Regions from separate parts of the Homo sapiens genome. Here region 1 is linked to region 2. Evidence: fine-mapped expression QTL. A gene starts in region 2. The other region holds a variant in brackets. All regions are shown on one strand. Distances are between the middles of the regions.

Region 1 (2,904 bases), 22 kb after region 2:
CACTAATGTTCTGAGATACTGACATGGTAAAGAGAAAGCTATGGAAAATGCACTCTGCTGAATCCTTCAGGAGAATCCGAGAAAACACTCTCTTCCCTCTGCCTGTTCGTGGATAACGTGCTGATGATGTGGGAGTGGGCAGTTCCTTTGTTCACCTAACATTGGTACAGAATGCTCACCCACGCAGGAGGCAGCACGTATTCGTCCACTCCAAGAAACAAGACCCTATTCCCACTGCAGGATAACCCGACCCTTCACAGAAAGCCCCGCACAGCACTGCTCTAGTTCTGGAAGTGACTGCTACCAGCCTGAGAGCATCCCCGAGCCCAGCATACCTTGGCCTGTTTTCCAAAACACGACTCCATGCATCTGGCCCGACACCCCGATGCCCACGACGCTCCGGAGCTGGGGTCGGGGAAGGGCAGCAAGGCACTCGTGTAGGGCTTGGAGGATTCTACTCACATCCTGCTCCCGCCCCTGGAAGCAAAAGAGAACACATGGGCAGGGGCAGACACACAGGCAGGGGGAGGGGCGCAGGCCTCCCGGGATGTCCTGGAGGAGGAATGCAGTGGGCAGCATCCACTCCCTAACTTCACAGTTGAGGCACTGCTGCAGGTGAGTTGCAGCAAACTGCCTGGGCCTGCCCTCCACTGGGGTCAGACTCAGCTGAGAACAGCATTCTCTGTGCTATAAATAGAAGAAATAAGGCCAGGCACTGGTGGCTCAAGCCTATAATCCCAGCACTTTGGGAGGCCAAGGTGGGTGGATCACCTGAGGTCAGGAGTTCGAGACCAGCCTAGCCAAACAACATGATGAAACCCCGTCTCTACTAAAAATACAAAAAATTAGCCGGGTATGGTGGCATGCACCTGTAATCCCAGCTACTCAGGAGGCTGAGGCAGGAGAATCGGTTGAATCTGGGAGGCGGAGGTTGCGGTGAGCCGAGATCACGCCACGGCACTCCAGCCTGGGTGACAAAGTGAGACTCCATCTCAAAAAAACCAACTAGAGGAATCCACAGAAAGTTCAGAAGAGAAGAAGGGGAAGAGAATTGTGGCTCAGCTCTCAATAAATGTCAGCTCTTTGAGGAACTAGCAAAGCTAAGGTCTTAGAAAGGCATCTGAAGGCTGAGTTCTCAGACGTCTTGCTTCCCTCCCGGGAGTGCTGTCTTCCCCTCCTCGGAAAACCTCTCGCTTGCCCCTGTCAGCCTGCGGCCTTGGTCAGGGGCAGCTCTTGGCTCCTAACAAGCAGGAACAAAGAAGAGAAAGAAGGGAGGAGAGGAGGGGTAGGATGGGGCAGGGAGTACAGGGGAAGCACAGCCTTTTCCTAGGAAGCAGCCCCAGAGCTCAACAAGGATTCTACATGCAAGAGAGGCCACAGCCAAGAGGAAGTGGAAGACAAGAGGCACAGAGGAGCCAGGTGGCTATGCAGGATCACCAGAGGGAGGAAAGAAGAGCAGGGTGGGGACATGGGGGTGGGGGGCAGGAAGAAGGGTTCTGGGAATAGACATTTGTTTAGACCCTCACTGTCCAATACTGAAATCGTTAGCCACTTGTGGCTAGTCTGAATTGACATGTAAATGTAAAACATGCACCGGACTACAATTTAGTATGACAAAAAATATACACTATCTAATTTAATGCTTTTTTTTTTTTTTTTTTTTTTTTTTTAGCGATAGAGTCTCTCTCTATTGCTCAGGCTAGAGTGCAGTGGCATAATCTTGGCTCACTGCAACCTCTGCCTCCCAGGTTCAAGTGATTCTCCTGCCTTAGCCTCCGGAGTAGCTGGGATTACAGGCTCACACCACCACGCCGGGCTAATTTTTGTATTTTTAGTAGAGACGGGGTTTCGCCA[C/T]GTTGGCCAGGCTGGTCTCAAACTCCTGGCCTCAGGGATTCACCCACCTCGGCCTCCCAAAGTGCTGGGATTACAGGTGTGAGCCACCGCACCCAGCCTTGATTATCACACATCAAACTGATAATGTGCTGGATACACTGGGTTAAATAAAATATGCAATTAAAATTAATTTCACTTGTTTATTTTAATAGGGCTGCTAGAAAATTGAAAAGGCCACGCCTGGCTCCATTTGTAGGTTACATTTCTTTTTTTTTGAGACGGAATCTCACTGTCACCAGGTTGGAGTGCAGTGGTGTGATCTCAGCTCACTGCATCGTCTGCCTCCCAGGTTCATGCGAGTCTCCTGCCTCAGCCTCCCAAGTACCTGGGACTATAGGTGCGCGCCACCACACCCGGCTAATTTTTGTATTTTTAGTAGAGACGGGGTTTCACCATGTTGGCCAGGATGGTCTCGATCTCTTGACCTCGTGATTCGCCCGCCTCGGCCTCCCAAAGTGCTGGCATTACAGGCGTGAGCCACCGCGCCTGGCCTGCAGGTCATATTTCTACTGGACAGAGCTAGTTTAAAGAGTCCTCCCAGCTGGGCGCAGCGGCTCACGCCTATAATCGCAGCCACTGGGAAGGTTGAAGCAGGAGATCACTTGATCCCAGAACTTTGAGACCAGCCTGAGACCAGCCTCAGCAACACAGTAAGACTCCACATGGCCATGGGGTGGTGTGTCATCCCAGGACAGAGCTGCTGTTTCAAATGGTCCCAGGGTGAGTGGGTGCGTGAGTTGTGTGGGGGGAGACACGGGAAGAAGTAAGCAGGCTGGATGTGGTAAAGACAAGGAGGCAGTGTTCAGCAGTTAGAAACAGTTTTAGGGGCGGGTGTGATTGGGGAGTAGCTCTTGGACAGACCCCCAGTGTAACAGGAATAGACATTGCCCCCACTCCTTGGCTCAGAATATCAGTTGGTCTACATCCACGTCGAATCCTCGCGCTTTAGACTTGCACACAGTACTTAGAAGCTCATTAAATCCTACTCCTCAGGCCTCTTTTTACAGCGGA
Region 2 (2,904 bases):
ACTATGTCTCAAAAAAAAAAAAAAAAAGGCAAAAAAAACTAGCACGAATTTCTTTTTCTTTAGAATTTCACAGATAGAAGATTCAGCATATGACTGTTTTCTTCCCATCTTTTCACTTAAAGGAAGCACCTTACGGTTTCTCTTTGGCATATCCGAACAGCCAGCATCACTACCAGCATCACTACTCTGGTGCTTTGGGGCCCTAATGAAGTAAAAAAAGACTGACCTGAACAGAAGCACTGTGATACCAGGACGGGCGATCTGACGACTAAGTGACTGACCGGCGGGGAGCATCTACGGCCTGGACGTGGGGAACACAGGGACGGTTTGCATCCCAGATGGCACGGCAGAGACTCTCCATCACACTGCTCAGAACAATGCACAAGGGAAAACTTGGGAACTGTTTGAAGAATTTTCCATTTAATATTGTCAGACCGTGGTTGACCGCAGATAACTGAACCCATGGAAAGTGACACCGTGGATAAGGGGGGACTACTGTGGACAGCTTTCCTGGGTGATTGGGAGACGTTTTTCTGGTAGAACACCAGGGCAAGGCTTTTCTGAGGATGATCTACGAATTCTCCCCAGAGCACTTCAACCTCCCAAACCAAGCTCTGCGGCTGTGCCATTGCACAGTCTTCCCACAGCAGAGAGGTGTGTTTTATTTAAGGCACAAGACTCTGGAAGAATGGGCTTTGTATTTATTTATGAGACAGAGTCTTGCTCTGTCACCCAGGCTGGAGTGCAATGGCGCGATCTCAGCTCACTGCAACCTCTGCCTCCCGAGTTCAAGTGATTTTCCTGCCTCAGCCTCCTGAGTAGCTGGGATTACAGGCATGCGCCACCACGCCCGGCTTGTATTTTTAGTAGAGACGGGGTATCCCCATGTTGGTCAGGCTGGTCTTGAACTCCTGACCTCAGGTGATTCACCCACTTGGGCTTCCCAAAGTGCTGGGATTACAGGCGGGAGCCAACATGCCCGGCCAAGAATGGGCTTTAGTATCTGACATTTGGCCAGAGTGATCAGGCATTTGCTCTCATCTTAGAGCTTCCAGATAATCACATAATTTGTAAAATGACATTTATAAAGAGACAATATGTTTCATACCTGTCATGGATACTGAGAGAGAGAGAGAGAGAGAGAGAGAGAATACGACTGCTTCCCAAACTCGTGGTTGCCAGCGTGACTCTGGGCCAGGCCTGCCTGAGCCTGGGCTCCTTTGGGAGTCTAGAAGTAGATGCGGCAATGGTGGCCCCCTCCTGGAAGCCACCCCACAGCCATCCCTACCAATCACAAGAAGGCTTACAACGCTCTGGGATCCCTACAGGGATGCCAACTCAAATGGATGTTTCTGCTGAGCCAGGAGCACACACTGGGCCAGCAAAGCCCACGCCAAGCGAAAGGAGAGCCTGGGCCTATGGGATACAGAGTTCTCTTTGAATAAACTACCTGCCCCATCTGGCAGGAGTCTGCCTGGCTGCATCCCTTCCCATGAGGGCTTCTGGAATGTGCAGGGGCAAAAACACTGCTGCACAGACATGCTCCTGGCAAGGGGTCCTGCTGGTGCCTTGTCAGGTTCTGGAGTGGTGTGAGCTGCACAGCATCGGTCCCCCTTGCTGCTCATGCCATCCGCCTCTCCTTCTCGCAACCTGCCTTCCAGGCAGTTGTGCTGTGAAGACCTGGGCGGCCTGGGTGCAGCAAGCTCTCCTGAGGCTGAGTACATGCAGCAAGAAGGCCGGCACACAGCCCCGCATCGTCTTCTGAGCCTGCCTGCTGCATCGCGCTTGGGTCAATCCCTGGCCCAGCTAAGCATCTGCAGCCAGGGGAGGATGAGACTAGGAAAGGGGCCTCCGGTCACATGGTTCAGTCCAGGAGACAAGAACTTTTCCAGAAGTCCATACGACCCGAGTGTGGGCTTCAGGTCTCCAAAAACGATAATCACAAGCTGGGCATGGGGCAGTTCTCTTTTCCCACTTGGGACCAAAGCCACCAGACTTTCTGGTGTCTGAAGTACACATTGATCTGCTCTCTGTCTACAGGTGAACCACAGATGAGCCTGCTGACCAGCAGGCTGGGCTACTGTGCTCTCATGCTCTCTCTCTCCCACATGGACATTTGTAAATAGCTCCCAGGTGGGTCAATTTCGGAAGGCACTCATTTGGGATCTGGCTGACGGCTCCTGGCTGCATTATTAGAGTATGTTCTGAAGGTAAGTTCTTGGCCGAGATGGGACCTCACAACAAGCACTGCTTGAAAGCTGTCCACTGAACGGTCCAGGGAAAGGATGACCCACAGATGGTGTCAGGAATGTTAATCAGGTAAAATTCACAGCAGTCGTTTGGCGAAAGAGTTTGCTGTCTAAGATTCCTTCTGGTTGAGGTGTCTCCGGAGCATGACCAGAGCTGCCCCGACAGCTGCATCCACATCCTGCCCAAAGGACATGGGCAAAGGGAAAGCCCTCTGCACCTCCTGCTTCAGCACGTCATTCCTGGACAGCGCACTCCCACTGCCCATCACCCTCTCCACGCCCCACTCCTGGAGCTGCTGAATCGGAAGCATGGAGTGCAGGTTCTGAACAATGCCTCGGCACAGAGCCCGGGTCACGTGCCCCAGGGAGAGGTCGGAGGAGGAGATTCTGGTCACTGAGGCCAGCTGGTCCGGCAGGTGCCTCTCCCCCAGCACTGTCGGGGTGATGGTCAGGTGGGTATCTCTCTGCTGCACAGCTGCCTGAATCATGCGTGAATACACAGTGGATTCTTCAACCTCCAGGCCTGCCAGAGACAGAGAAGATCTGTGTAAGCTCATGCGTCCCCCTCAGTGCAGGCTGACATGGCAGAGAATTCCCACAGGGTGGGAACAGCGCTACTTGCTGCTTCTCCTCCCGCTGCAGCTGGTGGTTCTGG

The links. PIP is the estimated chance that this variant, and not a neighbour inherited with it, causes the effect.
Region 1: its variant is fine-mapped to the expression of TRPV1 in whole blood (TOPMed, PIP 0.91).

What each region holds. Positions count from the first base shown.
Region 1 is chr17:3,629,870-3,632,773 of GRCh38, forward strand. It overlaps SHPK (sedoheptulokinase), which reads right to left. Exons shown (of 7, transcript NM_013276.4): 2 at 336-477. Among named protein-coding and RNA genes, the nearest start is that of SHPK, 4.9 kb to the right of the region's middle. The variant C/T (reference allele first, on the strand shown) is at 1,855.
Region 2 is chr17:3,608,201-3,611,104 of GRCh38, forward strand. TRPV1 (transient receptor potential cation channel subfamily V member 1) reads right to left here and starts at 1,211. Exons shown (of 17, transcript NM_080704.4): 1 at 1,109-1,211; 2 at 227-365. SHPK (sedoheptulokinase) reads right to left here. Exons shown (of 7, transcript NM_013276.4): 7 at 40-2,772. The coding sequence ends at 2,360. RefSeq lists an enhancer at 1,101-1,602.